Linked DNA regions of Homo sapiens: region 1 is linked to region 2. Evidence: fine-mapped expression QTL. Tissue or cell type: monocytes. Region 2 holds a variant in brackets; the other region holds the start of a gene. All regions are shown on one strand. Distances are between the middles of the regions.

Region 1 (8,083 bases), 52 kb after region 2:
CAGAGTACTAGTGGCCAGAGACCTCTGCTCTCCCCTTTCTTGCTCTTTAGCAAGCTGTGTACCCTCACCAAGGACTTAACCTCTCTGGTCCCAAACCTCTCTTTCCCCACCTCACAGAATAGGCTCATCGAAAGGCCCAGGACTAGCAGTCTGAAGAAATGACATCAACAAGGGCAGGGACACAGTCAATCTGGTACCCAGTGTCACGCTGTGTTTGCTGAATGAGTAAGACTAAATTAGCTTCAGCACACTTATTTATAAAAAGTAGAGGGCAGGCGCGGTGGCTCACGCCTGTAATCCCAGCACTTTGGGAGGCCGAGGCGGGCGGATCACGAGGTCAGGAGATCGAGACCATCCTGGCTAAAACGGTGAAACCCCATCTCTACTAAAAATAGTAAAAATTAGCCGGACTTGGTGGCGGGCGCCTGTAGTCCCAGCTACTCGGGGGGCTGAGGCAGGAGAATGGCATGAACCCGGGAGGCGGAGCTTGCAGTGAGCCGAGATCGTGCCACTGCACTCCAGCCTGGGCCACAGAGCAAGACTCCGTCTCAAAAAAGAAAAAAAAAAAAAAAAAAAAAAGTAGAAATGCTAACCACCTGCCAACCCCAACAGGTTCCTCTGACAATCAGATGTAATGGGTGGGACAAGCTATACCAATGGATGACATCACTATCTCATAACAAAAATATCAGTGCCAGAGAGAGTATTATAAGGAAACTGACACTCAGTAAGGTTTAATGAGTAAACTAGATTAGCAACTTCACATTCACTGAGTGATTTCACATCCAGTGTGGCATCTAGTCCACATTTTAAGTGTAAATCCCACTATGAATAACTTAAAGGAAATCATTTCATCATTTGTTCTGAACCTCTGTTTCTTCATCTGTAAAAAGAGAATGCGGGCCGGGCGTAGCGGCTCACACCTGTAATCTCAGCACTACGGGAGGCCAAGGTGGGTGGATCACCTGAGGTCAGGAATTCAAGAGCAGCCTGACCAACATGGTGAAACCCCGTCTCTACTAAAAATACAGAAATCAGCCGGGCGCAATGGTGCGTGCCTGGATCCCAGCTACTGGGGAGGCTGAGGCAGGAGAATCGCTTGAACCAGGGCGGCAGAGGTTGCAGTGACACGAGATGGTGCCATTGCACTCCAGTCTGGGTGACAGGGCGAGACTCTGTCTCAAAAAAAAAAAAAAAAAAAAAAAGAGAGAATGTGCTCCATCTCTTCTGTTTGCCCCCTCCAAAAAACACCCTACCCTCTCCTCCCTGCCCTGTGTCCCCGAGTATAGACCTCATGCACAGGTTTCCTGGCTCTCCAGCTTCCAGATGGGTCTGCCCAGCAGGAGGCACCAGCAGAAGTTTGGTGGGAGGAAGAAAGAGAGGTCAGGGTATTTCTTCCCCCACCTCAATCCTTGACAGGAAACTGGGGCTGCTTCCCTTGAACAAAGTTATCAGCAGGTCTCAGGTGCCCTCTCCACACAATTCAGATCACACCCTTCACCCCTTCCGGCCCAAAGATGGACACCAGGTTCTGGAGTTACCAGCTATGGGATACTAAACCTTCACTCCCGATTTCCCTACCCACACCTTTATTGAGTTTCTCTCAGATCATCCTAATTTAAATGTGCCACCTATTTCCTGCTGAGATCCTGGATTATACAGTAGATATCACCACCTCATAAGGTTACAAGTGAGAGACCATGTTATGACTAGATGCTAGGCACTGAGCTATAGTTACTGTTACAACAATTATATTATGCAGAAATTGTTGCTCCCAATCTGCAGATAAGGAAGTCGAGAGGGTGAGAGAAATTAAGAAATTCTTACAAGCACATACAAGAGTTGAACAGCTAGAACTGAGGCCTTAACCTCCAGAACCAGAAACCTTTCCATTTCTATTATCACCATCGCGGTCAATATTTTTCTTACCACAAGTTTCATCATCGCCGTCATTCCTACATAACAAAATAACACTCTCTTGCGAATGAGTTTATTTCTACTGTTGGACGTGTGGTTAAGAGTGGGAGTTCTGGAATGGGATCAAAGTACAAGGCCTGACTTGCAGGAAGTGTTATCTTGAGCAAGAAACTTTCCTCCACGAGCCTCAGTTTCCTCCAGTAAAATGGGGATAGATAACAGGGCTTCCTTCACAGGGTCGTGGCGAGGATTCAATGAGATAACGTTTGCAAGGCAATGGGCAGGCAGTAAGCACTCAAATCCGACAGGAGCTACTGTCACGAAAAGCGGGTTTGCAGCCTTGGCGGCTTTATCGCCGCCGAGGACTAGGGAGGCGGGCCAGGACATGGGGACCCGAGGACCTGAAAGACTGGAAGATGCCCGCTGCCCACCCCCGGGCCCACCTGCTCCTCCAGTCTCTCAATCTCCAGCTGGTTTTTCTCCTCCTCTTCGTCATATTCCCACTCGTACTCCCCGGGGGAGCTCTCCGCGGAGGAAGCCATGGCGTACTCATCCCCATCGCTCTCGCTCACGCCTTCCTCCTGCTGATCCCACGCTGGCCCCATGGTCTTGTATGTCGCAGCGGCCACAGCCCGCGATAACACCTTCCTCCTTGTCCTAGCCGCCTTAACCTCATCCTCCTCTCCGTCAGCCTTGGGCCCAGCCTTGGACTCAGCCTCGGGTTCTGAAGCCGAGGTTTCGGCCGCAGTCGCCATCTTGCGCTTCTAATGACTCTCGGGTCTTCCCGCGGCCGCCGAAGACCCGCTGAGGCAGAAGCTGCCCGCGGCGCGCGCCTTATCAAAAACCCGTTTTCTTGCCATTGAAAGAGAAACTGGGAACTTAGATAACAGGAAAATCTCCACATACACTAAATTCACATTATTTTATACCCTGTAAAAGCTCCCACCAGATATAAAAACTCATTATAATGGCATGCGTTCCGTCACAACTTCGGACAGAAGTTGGGTCTTTGGGCAGGAAGTGGAAGCCATAGAGGAAGTCATGGAGCGAGAGTGATGTCTGTAGTGAAGAATTTGGCGCCATCTTGAGAAGGTCAAAGTGATTCTTCGATTAAATGCCTTACTTATCGCCTAGTGTGACCTGGCGCTTGGGTTTACTCTCCCCAGCAACTGCGCCTCAAACGCAAAGAAAACTGCAGGTCCTCGGGGAAGGATCGATTTCACCATTCAAGAGAAAAATCCATTTCCCAGATTCCTCCCCTTTATGTAAACGTCTGGTACCTAGTAGACGTTAAATACACGTGAGTTTTCCGGTTTTATAAGATCACATACTGCAAACCAACAGTAAATTACATTAATACGCATTTCTTTAGAAATTCTTAATTGCTAGGCACTGACATATAAATTGAGTTTGCTGTTGTTTTAGAGAGAAAAATAGACATATTCATTTTTTTTCAATCAGGACATGGTATTCGTTTCCTTCTTAAGCTTCCCATTTTTGAGGTAGGAAAGTATTGGTGTGTGTCTCTATCTCTACCTTGCTCCCTCATTAGCAGGCTTAATGGGCAGGAATTATGTCTGTTTTGCTTTCCGTTGGATCCCCGGGTCTAGTAGAGCGCCTTGACACATAGTAGGTACTCGACACAGATGCTGGCTTCATGATGAAGCAATTGTCCTCGAATTAATACAAAAGGGAAGATTCAGACTCAGCGAGCCGGTACCATTCGTCTAGGGACACACAGCCAGGAAGGAACCGAACCAGGATTCTAACCCAGGATTACCCAAGTTCGAATTCTAATTGAACATAAGTCCTTAGCGACCTTGGACGGACTTACTAAACTGCCCTGAATCTCGGCTTCCTTAGCTGCAAAATAGGGTTAGGAAAAGTGGACTCGGTGCTCCTCTGCGCCGCATTCCCGCAGCGGGATTTGTGAAAGCGAACTTGAGCCCCACACTGCAGAAGCCCTGAGGTCCTGTCTCAACCAGAATCCAGCACCCAGGACAAGCCCTCCAGCGACTTCAGACCTTCCCGCTCCCGACCCCGCCCGCCCCCGAGAGGCGTGGTCAAGGCGGGGCCAGAAGGCGGACGCGTGCACGGAGCGGTAAAGCGCAGGCGCAAAGCTTCGGTGACGTCAGAGAGGCGCGCTCCCAGCTCGGAGCCGACTCGCAGACGCGCCCCGCCCCTCGGCGTCGCTCTGGACTGGCGCAGGCGCAAGCCGGCAAGATGGCGGCGGCTGGGGCTTTCCGTCTGAGGCGGGCGGCATCGGCTCTGCTGCTGCGGAGCCCCCGCCTGCCCGCCCGGGAGCTGTCGGCCCCGGCCCGACTCTATCACAAGAAGGTAGGGACAAAAGAGGGACGCGCGGAATGCCGACTCAGCGGAGGCCTGGGCTGGAGGGGCGGCCGCGGGGTTCTGCGCAGCTAGGACTGGGAGCTGTCCCCTCCCACGTCTTTGCCCTGACTCGCTTTCCCTTGCTGCGCAGTGAGGCTCACTGCAACTGATAAACAACAGTTACCGCTCATCGGGCGGCGACTTCCAGGGGGCCCCGCCGCTGGCCGCGACTTCGTGCGTCCCAATTTTAAATTCGCCAACAGCCCAGGAGGCAGGGTCCTGTTGGGACTTGTCTTTCTGAGTCCAGGGACAGACACACCCCCGGAGCGGGCTCCGGCTTCAGCCACTCCGCTGCCCTGGCCAGATGACCTTGGGCTAGTCACTGCGCCTCTCTGAACCTGTTTCCCCAGGTGTAAATGGGGGGCTCTCAGCTGTCCCTTACAAAGGATACTGTGCGTGGAGTCCTGGCATGGTTCCTGGCACATAGGCCCCAGCACGAGGAGACCGTTTCTGTTACTGCTTTAGGAGTGCATAGGGGAGTCAGGCTTGTAACCAACATGCGTAATGTTTTTGTTTTGTTTGGGGGGTTTTTTGGCGGGGAAGGAGGGATAGATTCATAGTCTGCAGCCCCTTGCTGTCTGGTGGCACAAAGTCCCCCAGACGTGAGACTCCCACTCGAGAAACAACTAAAGAATGCCATAAATCAACGTGGCACAAAAGGCCCCTACATTAGATACTATCCTGAGGTCCCTTTTACTTGGAGTCAAAATCCTTAGTCAGATGGGGGGAAAAGGGGACTGGAAGATCGGCGTGCTTACTACTAACCAGTAACCAAACCTCAAGGTTATTAAGGCCTTCTGTGTGCCAGTTCGAATGGATGTTTATTGTGATCTGGCTTCTGCCCTTTCTCCAAGGGCTTCTTCACTCCTCCCCCTCCCGGGGGTGTGTTTTGTTGAGGGTACACCCTGAAGAAACTTGGACTAGCAGCCTTTCAGCAGCCAGGGTGCGCTGCTGCACCAGGGTGATGACAGGCTGTGAAATACGGTAATGGCACTGTTTTTATTTTAAAAGACACATAAACGTACACATTCCATAGCATTGTTCCCTGTGTAACAGTCACCTTAAGGCTTCTAAGAAAGCTTTCCCTCCCTGGGCCATGGTTATTTTTAGAATTTTTAAATAGTAATCATCCTTTGAGGATGGATTTTATTTGAAAATAACAAAACTGCTGTTTGAGCCCAAGTCTGGTGATGTAGGTGGGTGAAAGTCAAGTATTTTTGTAAAAATCCTATGGAACTAAGACATGATTTCACTGATTTTTTTTTCTTCTAGGTATCTCAAATCTGTGAAGTATTGTAGAGGAGACACAAAAGGAATTGGGGGTCACAAATGGTTCTCATTGACATGAGTGTAGACCTTTCTACTCAGGTGAAATTTGGTATTTAGTGATTGCCTGCCAGGTTCAAGATGCTGACCGAGGAGCTTACCATCAAACCAGAGACCAGTACCAATAGAGAGTGAACATGATTTATCTTAACCCTCTCATTTTAGGTTGTTGATCATTATGAAAATCCTAGAAACGTGGGGTCCCTTGACAAGACATCTAAAAATGTTGGAACTGGACTGGTGGGGGCTCCAGCATGTGGTGACGTAATGAAATTACAGGTATGGCTAGTCTTTTTTAATAGTGATAACAATAATCCCTTTAAGTTTACAAAGCACTTGCGCATTTCACTTGGTCTCCATCTTTATTCCTGTGAGATCTCCAAGCATTTCACTTGGTCTCCATTCCTGTGAGATGGGATGAGTCCATGTTAGATATGACTGGAGCAGGGCCTCAATCGTAGCTCTCCTGCTAGGCTAGTGTACTATGCCAACTTTTTCCAAAATAGAAAAGTAATCTCATTTTTGTACTCACTGTATCAGTTTAAATTCTGACTTCAGCCAACTAAAGAGTTTTGTGAATTTTACTGATCAAAGGAAAATCCCAGTGAGCTAGCAGTCCCCAATGAAACAAGAAACACAGTAAATTAAACCTGTCCCCAGATTGGGGGAAACATGAAAATAGTGTCTAGTGCTTTGGGTAAACTGTAGTTGTAGCACCAATCTGCTGCTTCATGGTGAGTGGGCAGCTTGCCAGAGGTCTTCATACCTATCTTGGAATACAGAAACAAAACAGGAGGAAACCACTAAGTGTAATCTGCTGCCCAAGAAAAAAGTATTAACCAGAGACCTTTATTGTGGACTCTGTCAGTGTTTAAAGAGGCCAGATTGCCCCAGCAGCTGTGAGCAGACTTCCACAAATAGAAGTTCATAGCCAAAATGCAGGCCAGAGTCACAAAACAAAAGAATATTGGAGTGGAGGGACATATTTTTCAGCTGATCTTTGTCAGTTGGGCCTGGATAGTTGTCCCTGCATTTCACTTTTCATCACTGAGCTCTTTGAAACAAGGCAAAGTCAGTAATTAATGCCATCACTTAGTGTGGAAAGCAAGCCCAAAGCCCTTGGGGAAGGCCCTGGTGAACCTTCGTGAGTGCCAGGTTCCAGAGGGTGGTCCCAGGACTCACCACTTAACTCTTGTCTCTTTTCTAGATTCAAGTGGATGAAAAGGGGAAGATTGTGGATGCTAGGTTTAAAACATTTGGCTGTGGTTCCGCAATTGCCTCCAGCTCATTAGCCACTGAATGGGTGAAAGGAAAGACGGTAAGGTGGCTCACAAATCTAATGGGTCAAAAACAAGTAACCATGACTTTTTTTTAATATTCTAAATTTTTAAAATTTCTCCTATGCAGATGTTGATTATATTATCATTTCTTCAAATTGGGAATTATGGATCATTCTACTAGGTGTTGTTTGGGTTTTTTTCTTGTTGATCATTTTTATTTTTTTGTTTGTTTGGGTGTTAATTACATATAAAAAAGATCCTCACCTGTCCCTCTAACAAAATAGAATTTAAAAGAAATCTTTGGCTTTCTCTAAGGTTACCAGTGCTCTTATAATTTCTCAAGTCAGAGAGTTGTTATAAGGTAGTTATTTTCTTGTTTATTTCCTCTCATGTTTCAGGAAGGGTTCTAGGTGGCTTTCAAGAATTGGTGAAATAAACTAGCCTGTGTTAAAAGAGGGATTAAATAATCAAAAAGACAGCAAGGGTGGGGGCAAAGTGAACAACGAAATCAGAACAGTGATCCAGGTGGCTGATCGCAAGCCCTCTAAAGGCAGAGATAATAAAGAGCTAGAACTTCTTTTTCATCCCTTTGTCTCCCAAGTGTCTTTCCCTGGTAGCTGCAGAGGTCAAAGGTCCCAAACACAGTGAAGAGCTGGACTTTCTAAAATCCAGTTGCTGTCAAAACCTCTCAGAAAAGCCAACCAGCAAGGCACTCATCTTTGCTGCCCCAAGGGACCAGGTTCAGGGAGCTGAGTCACAGAGGAGCATGCTTGGAAGCTGGCCAGCTCCACAGCAGAGCAGTTTGCCAGGCCACGTGCCACCTGCTTCCTGTGGCTCACGGCCTTCTGGCTGGCAAGCCCCTGTGGGCCAGGAAGCTCAGACCTAACCTGCTGTGGCAGGAGGTAGCTCTGAAGTGATTTGTCAGGAACTGTCCTCAGGTGAAGGGAGAAATGAGACAAGGCACTTTTGCTCCCAGAACCTGGCCCTTAGGGGACTGTGAATTGTGATCAGAAAATGGGAGAGAGGACATTTCTTTAACCTTGAGATCTCCCATCTGAGTTTCAGGAGCAGAACCTGAATCAACCAAGAAGGGTTAGCAGAATTGGGAAACTGAATGATAGACATAGTCAAAGAGTCTGGCTGTTGGGAAATCTGGTTTTCTGTAAGGCAGT
Region 2 (8,104 bases):
ACATCTATTATGCATCAGTTTTTAAAAACAAAAACTTGATTATCTGCAAAGACTCTGTTTCCCAATAAAGTCTCACTCACGGATCTTGGGGTTAGGACTTCAACATATTTTGAGAGGCACAGTTCAACCCATAACACATATTTGCACATAATAGAGTGCTTAAGAGCTCCAGATCCCCCTTAATCAGACCAAATCCCAGCTCCACCACTTATAGGCTGATGGCCTGTGACAAGTCATTTCACATCTCTGGGCTTCGGTTTCCTCATCTGTAAAATGGGTCTCATAACTCTACCTACTTTGTGGGGCATCAAAGGATTCAACAAAATCATGTATTTGTTCAATCAATGTTGATAATACTCCTGTGGCCTGCCAGCCTTAGGCAAGCTGTAAACAAAAGACAAATCCCTGCCCCTGTGGAGCTTATTAAGAACAAAGGGGCTGCAGAGCCACTTTATATTTTAAAAAATAGGCCAGGGGCAGTGGCTCATGCCTGTAATCCCAAAGCTTTGGGAGGCTGAGGCAGGAGGATCGCTTCAGGCCAGGAGTTTGAGTCCAGCCTGGACAACATGGTGAAACCCTGTCTCTAACAAAAATACAAAAAGTTAGCTGGGCATGGTGGCACATGCCTGTAGTCCCAGCTACTCGGGATGCAGAGGCAGGAGAATCGTGTGAGCCCAGGAGGCGGAGGTTGCAGGGAGCCGAGATTGCAGCACTGCACTCCAGCCTAGGAGACAGAGTGAGACCCCATCTCAAAATAAATAAATAAATAAATAAATAAATAAATAAACAAACAAGTAAAATATCTAGGCTAGCAGAGGGCGAAGAGTGAGATTATTTCTATGTGCATCATTTATGGCTGAAAAATAGAAAAATGACGCAAGTGATAGCCTCAGCAAAACATCTGCATGAAGTAAAAGAGGTGGCTGTTTAGTGAATCCCCATAAAAAGAGAGGGGAAAAAAGGTCTGTAACAGTGAAATTATCCTAACTCAAGGGATGCTCGTAGCATGGTGCCTGGCACCTGGTGATCTTCTGCTGCTTGTGATTATAACTCTCCCAAGAAAGGAAGTCACAGGAAGCATGTCCACTGTATGCCAGTGTGAAGCCCAGCCAGCCATGCTCCCAAAGGGCCACTTTACCCACCACAGTCCCAAAGCAGCCAGGAAGGCTCAAGAAGGAACAAGGAAGGCCAGGTGGGTGGCCTTGGAGGACTCTGCTCCCTTTCATCCATCCCCAGGCTGGGGGTTAATTTTGCAGCTGCACCCCCAGCCAATGAATTGTTCTCAAAGTGCATGGAAACACTGCTGTTGGAAAAACTGTGAAGAACCATAAGAGGGCAAGAAATAAAAATGCTGAAAGAAGCCAGACCCCAAAAGCCACCATATTATAGGATTCCATTTACAGGAAACATCCAGAAGAGAAAAATCTATACAGACAGAGAGTAGATTGCCAGGGGCTGAGGGAAGGAGCTTGGGGAGAAACAGGAAATTGCTACTAAAGGGTCTTTGCTTTCTTTGGGGGTAATGAAAATGTTCTAAAATTGGGGTGATGGTTGCACAACCCTGTGAATATATTAAAAACCACAGAATGGTACACTTCAAATGGGAGAATTGTGTGGTATGTGAATTATATCTCAATAAAGCTGTCATTTAGGAAAAAAAAAAACAGTTGCCTTGGCTCTAAACTTACTTCTCCAATTCCTCTGAGAATGCCAAATCACTGCCATCTCTCTGATTAGGGCTGAATTCATTTCACAGTAATTTTTAAAAGAGTATTTTCTCAACACCTGAAATAGGCCCTTTGATGTCTGTCCAAAGCCCTCCTGGGAATTCTTATCTATTTAAAAGAGGGAATGAGTATTAAGAGCTTGGCTTTCCTAGCTAGCCAGACATCCATGTTAATTTCCACATCTCCACGTTACTATGGCAACAGAGAGCTTCCACTGAGAGCTTTTTGGGGGGCATCAAAATGGACTGCAATTTGGACTCAGGGAGTCCACAGCCCCTCTGCCCAGCAGCCCCCAGACCCTGGCTACCTTGAATCAGGTGAAACAGAGAAATCAGAGAAGGGGAGGATGTAGGCTCCACTGGGTCTTCACTCCATCCTGGCCCAAACTGAGTCACCGTCCCCATGCAGGAAGAGAAGTGTTAGTCACATCTTTCAGAGGCTGTGATCTAAAACAGCGTATTGAGCACCTGAGTCAGTCTCCATGTCAACATGACCATATTTTTAGGCAGGAGTAGGCAGCTTCTTGGGCCAATTAGAGTAGTACAGCTAGAAAGCAGTCAGTAAACAGCTGGGAGAAAAGCAGTCAGCCACTGGGAGTCCACTGTTCTCACAGAGGAGTCTCACAAATGCAGAAGCTCCCTGCCTTGAGGTACCCAAAGAGTCCACCACATAAGGCCCAGGAGGCCTGAAGTCCATCCTGTCAGGCAGAATCAATCACTGGGACAGAGAAGGGAAGAGGCAGTGCATAAGACAGGCAGCCTCAAAGATGGGCCCCACTGATCCTCATCTCCTGGTGAGCCTTATGTAGCCCCCTCATACCTTGAACCAAGATTGATCTGTGTTGTGGCCAATAGAGTACAGCGAAGGTTAAATTGTGCCTTCTGAAGCTAGATCATAAAAGACACCACACTCTTGGGTCATTCATGCTGGAGAAGCCAGCTGCCATGTTGAGAGGACACTCAAGCAGTCCTACGGGGCAGCCCACATGAGAGGAACTGAAGCCCCCAGCCACCAGCCATGTGAGCCACCTTGGAAATGGAGCCTTCAGCACCAGTCAAGCTTTCAGATGATTGCAGCCCCAAACACTATCTTGACTTCAATCTCAAGAACGTCTGCCAGCTAGAACCATCCAGCTAAACTGCTCCCAGATTACTGACCCACACAATATAATGTAAAGTAAAAAATGTTTGCTGTTGTTTTAAGCTACTAAGCATTGGGGTTATTTGTTACACAGCAATGGATAACAGACATAGGGTGGATGTCAGAAATTGTCTCGAGAAGATGACTTTATGAAGATTTTTCCTCCTCGCTCCTTCCCCTACCCTTAAAGCATTTTTACAGTAGAAGGGGACATGTTAACGGGTAGGGAATCTAGAGACTTGGATTTGTATTCTGGCTCTGTCCTTAGTTTTTCCACCTCCAAAGCTGAGGAGCTAAAATGTAACCTGAGATCTCTGAAAGCCTAGGGTCTCATAATCGTCAAAACCACAGTTTTGAGTCAGGAAGACTGGTTGTGAACCCTGGCTCTGCCACTTGCTTGCTGTGTGACCTCAGACTAATTACTTAATTTATCTGAGCCTCATTTTCACCTTCTATAAAGTGGGTTTAATAATATCTAGTTCATGGCGTTGTTACAAAAATTCAATCAAATACCATACAAATTACTTAGCACACAGTAAGTGCTCAGTTGTCACCACTACCAAAAATGAGATAGCATGGTGGGTACGATTATTTCCACTTGTAGCTAAGATACAGTAGGATCAGAGGAGCAGTTAGAGGATTTCGTTGGTCTGGAGCAAGGCCCCATGTGGTTGTTTTTCCAAAACCCCCCCAAATGATTCTTTGAGAAACTTTGTCCTAGAGAAACTTCCACACATGTGCCAAAAAATCATACAAGTATTTCACTGCAGTCTGTGATAGGGAAAAATTGGAAACAATCCAAATGCCCATCAACAGGTAAATGGGAAATAAATTGTTAATGGAATACTATACAGCACTGTAAAATTAATGAACCAGAACTATGCATATCAGCATGAGCATAAATCTCTAAGACATAATTCTGAGCCCCAAAATGCAGAAGGATCCACACGGTATATATCATGCATAAAAATCTGCATAACATCATTATATATTATTTATGGATACATGCATGTGGATAAAAGCAAAAAGCCATGCATGGAGGCAGCAGCACCAAATTCAACATGGTAGTGACCTCTGGGAGGGAGGGAAGGGCATGTGAAGGGGAGAAGGCCCATGGGGCTTCAGTGTATTGGTGACATGGTATTTCTTAAACTGGATGGCAGGTA[T/C]ACAAGCGCCCATTGCACTGTTGATGTCTTTTGGATATCAGAAATATTTCATCATTTAAAAATAGATGTGGCCAGTTGTGGCGGCTCATGCTTATAATCCCAGCACTTTGGGAGGCTGAGGTGGGAGGATTTCTTGAGCCCAGGGGTTGAAGACCAGACTGGGCAACATAGTGAAACCCCATCTCTACAAAAAAAAAAAATTGTTTAAATTAGCCAGTCATGGTGGCATGCACCTGTAGTCCCAGCTACTTGGGAGGCTGAGGCAGGAGGATCACTTAAGCCCAGGAGGTTGAGGCTGTAGTGAGCTGAGATCATGCCACTGCACTCCAGCCTGGGTGACAGAGTGAGACCCTGTGTCTACAAAAAAAAAATTTTTTTAATTAGCCAGTCGTGGTGGCACACACCTATAGTCCCAGCTACTTGGGAGGCTGAGGCAGGAGGATCATTTAAGCCCAGGAGGTTGAGGCTGCAGCGAGCCGAGATCGTGCCACTGCCCTCCAGCCTGGGTGACAGAGTGAGACCCTGTCTCAAAAATAAATAAATGTGCATAGAGAAATATGGAGTAGAATTGTGAATGTGTATTTTTTTCTTGTTTTTTGTGGATTCTATATCTGTAATGATCTCATGTTGTTTTTAAGAAATAAAATAGTTGTTCAACAGGTGAAAAGCAGTTACGTTTAATTTTTTCCAAGTAAGAAGTACCACTTCCCCAAATGATTTGCTTTGAAAACAACACTCATCTGCATGTCTGAGTTTTGAAATATTGGTGATTTGAGACCATACGACATGAGAAACATCCTGAGGCCAGAACACAAGCCTTTAGCCCAGGGACACTCACATGGGGTCCCCCAAGCCCTGTTTCTTGGGGATGCCTCAGAAACTGGGTCTGACCCCACCAGGTATGTCTTTTCTTTTTTTTTTTTTTTTTTGAGACGGAGTCTCGCTCTGTTGCCCAGGCTGGAGTGCAGTGGTGCGATCTCAGCTCACTGCAAGCTCCGCCTCCCGGGTTCACGCCATTCTCCTGCCTCAGCCTCCCGAGTAGCTCGGACTACAGGCGCCCATCACCACGCCAGGCTAATTTTTTGTATTTTTAGTAGAGACGGGGTTTCACTGTGTTAGCCTGGATGATCTCGATCGCCTGACGTCGTGATCTGCCCGCCTCGGCCTCCCAAAGTGCTGGGATTACAGGTGTGAGCCACCGCGCCTGGCCCCCACCAGGTATGTTTTAAAAGGAGGATTAATCAGTAGCAGGGAGAAGGGCTGCTGGGCTCTCTTTTTCAGCCACAGCATTAAGTTAGACAGAGAAAAAAAAATCAGGGGTGGGGAAAGATGAGAGAAATGAAGAAGCAAGAACAGGTGTGGTGTATTTTCTTTTTAATGAAGTTGAGTCATTCTGCAGCCAACTCAATGCCATGTAGCCTCAAGCCGGGGAGTTTTGTTTTTCCTAAGCAATAGAATCCGACTCTGCCAGCAAGAAGCGCTTGACTGCTGTTCCTTAAACATGCAGAAGGGTTTTTTGTCTTGTTTTGTTTTGCATAATGGACATATTTCCCATGCAGCCACTTTCTGGGTTCTTTGTCATGTGTCAAGGTAAGCGTTTAGAAAACTCCTCCGTGGGCCACGGGGAGGCAATTTTCACCTAGTACAGAATGCTTAAGATGGAGAAAGCCAACTTTTCAATATCGCTTCAGGGACCATATTTTGTGCATTCAACACAGCTGAATGCAGACAAAGTCGAGAGTTAAAATTTTTTGAGTGTAAACTCCTGACAAGGAGATTGAAGGAGGGAAGTGATGTCAGGTGAATTACTGCCCCCTGGTGGCCAGACACAGTAATGGGCTCATTTTGCTGTAATAGTCCTTTGAGTCTTTTCTTCCTGCGTTCCCCTGCCATCTTCCACTACCGGCTACAAAGGGGTTACAATCTGGCGGCCCTGGAAAGCCAGCCGGCAGCCATGCCAACTGCCTTAAAATCTGGAGATACTGCTTAAAAAATCTAGGCCTCACATTTATTTTGAAAAATTGAAAACTCTATCCACTTTTAGACTGCATCCCAGCTAATAAATACGGGTTCGAGCTGAGAAGCTGCTGCCCACTTTAGACAAGGCATGTGCTCTCAAATCTGCCATACTCCCCACCTCTACCTATTGTCTCATGGCCAGGAAGCTTTGCTCATTAGCAGTTCCTGCATAGCCTCTGGATTTACTACTCGTAGCCTAAGCTAATTAAAGACTTAACAAAGAGAGGAGGGTGCCTTTAGAAGCAGAGGACTACATTGCTTTATACCTGGGTGTGGACAGGGGTCCACTAGTCCCTTAATACCCAGCTCAGTGAGGATAAGTGACTTGTTCAAGGTCACCCAGCCAGCAAGCGGTGGGCCTTGCATTTCAACGCACATCTGTCTGACCCCAGAGCTTCACTGTTTTCTAACATACTGTCACCCATAAGCTGGCTGCCTACCAGGCCCTCCTCTGGGGAAGGTTTTTACAATGACATTACTACTTGGGCCATCAGGAAGTGCAATTCAGAGGACTCCAAGAGAAAAATGTTTATGACCTTGGTTGAAAAGATTAAAAACGAGAAGCCACCAAAATAATCACCACCCTGATTTTGTTCCTTAAAAACTATGGATCTTCTGGCCAGGCGCGGTGGCTCAAGCCTGTAATCCCAGCACTTTGGGAGGCCAAGGCAGGTGGACCACTTGAGGTCAGGAGTTGAAGACCAGCCTGGCCAACAGAATGAAACCCCGTGTCTATTAAAAATACAAAAAAATTAGCCGGGTGCAGTGGCACATGCCTGTAATCCCAGCTACTCAGGAGGCTGACGCAGGAGAATCGCTTGAACCCAGAAGGTAGAGATTGCAGTGAGCCAAGATCACACCACTGCACTCCAGCCTGGGTGACAGAGCAAGACTCTGTCTCAAAAACAAACAAACAAACAAAAAAACAATTAGCCTGTGTGTGCCTGTAGTCCCAGCTACTAGGGAAGCTGAGATGGGAGGATCACTTAAACCCAGGACATGGAGGTTGCAGTGAGCCAAGATCATGCCACTGCACTCCAGCCTGGGCAACAGAGTGAGATCCTATTTCAAAAAAGATAGATAGGTGATAGATAGATAGATAGATAGATAGATAGATAGATAGATAGATAGTTTGCTCTGTGCCAGATGTATAGAATCTCATTTCACCCTCACATAAAACCTTGTGAAGTGGTAATATCATCACACTGTGCACAGTTTACAGAAAAGCCTAGACAGATGATCAACAAGATCAAGTCACTTGCTGAATGTGATTCAGTTTGCAAGGGGCAGAACTGGGATTTGAACCCAGGTCTGTGTGACTCCCAACAGTGACACCCCACAACCACCACCTAGCCCTGCCTCCAAGAGCAATACACGTCACAGAGGAGGTCAGATCTTGAAGCATCAAGCCTTCTGCAAATCCTGAACTGGATGCCAAAAGCAAGGTAGGCTGTTTGTCCCCATTTTACAAGTGGGGAAAGTGAGGCTAGGAGTAACGTGCCCAAGGTGACACGGAGAGTAAATGGCAAAGTCTGAATTTGAGCTCAGGTCTCTTTGACTCCCCAGAATCTGAACTGCTAACTTCTAAATGCTTAGCGTTTCTGGGGCACCTCCCTAGATGTTTAATTTCAGTATTTGTGGATTAAGATGGAGGTTTCCATTCTCTGCTTCAAGGAAAAAATTTCTCTCTGGGAAGCCAAAAGAACTAGCCAGGTCCTTCTGGAGAGGATACAAATTAAAAAGTCAGGGAGAACCGAGGGGGTGGCTTGCGCCTGTAATCTTAGCGCTTTGGGAAGCCGAGATGGAGGGAGAGCTTAAGGTCAAGAGTTCGAGACCAGCCCGGGCGACATAGTGAGACCCGGTCTCTAAAGAAAATAAAAAATCAGAAATAGGTCGGGCGCGATGGCTCACGCCTGTAATCCCAGCACTTTGGGAGGCCGAGGCAGGCGAATCTTCTGAGGTCAGGAGTTCGAGACCAGCCTGGCCAACGTGGTGAAACCCCATCTCTACTAAAAATACACAAATTAGGCGGGCGTGGTGATGCGCGCCTGT

Evidence for each region. PIP is the estimated chance that this variant, and not a neighbour inherited with it, causes the effect.
Region 1: ISCU starts here. The variant in region 2 is fine-mapped to the expression of ISCU in monocytes (TOPMed, PIP above 0.99).

The regions. Positions count from the first base shown.
Region 1 is chr12:108,558,483-108,566,565 of GRCh38, forward strand. It overlaps ISCU (iron-sulfur cluster assembly enzyme), which reads left to right and starts at 4,114. Exons shown (of 5, transcript NM_213595.4): 1 at 4,114-4,254; 2 at 5,797-5,910; 3 at 6,839-6,949. The coding sequence starts at 4,141. SART3 (spliceosome associated factor 3, U4/U6 recycling protein) reads right to left here and starts at 2,691. Exons shown (of 19, transcript NM_014706.4): 1 at 2,361-2,691. The coding sequence starts at 2,672. RefSeq lists enhancers at 2,770-2,829, 2,840-2,939, 3,794-3,853, 3,924-4,003, 4,534-4,603 and 1 more and silencers at 4,214-4,333, 5,294-5,343.
Region 2 is chr12:108,506,280-108,514,383 of GRCh38, forward strand. No RefSeq gene overlaps it. Among named protein-coding and RNA genes, the nearest start is that of FICD, 4.9 kb to the right of the region's middle. RefSeq lists a silencer at 6,788-6,973. The variant T/C (reference allele first, on the strand shown) is at 4,034.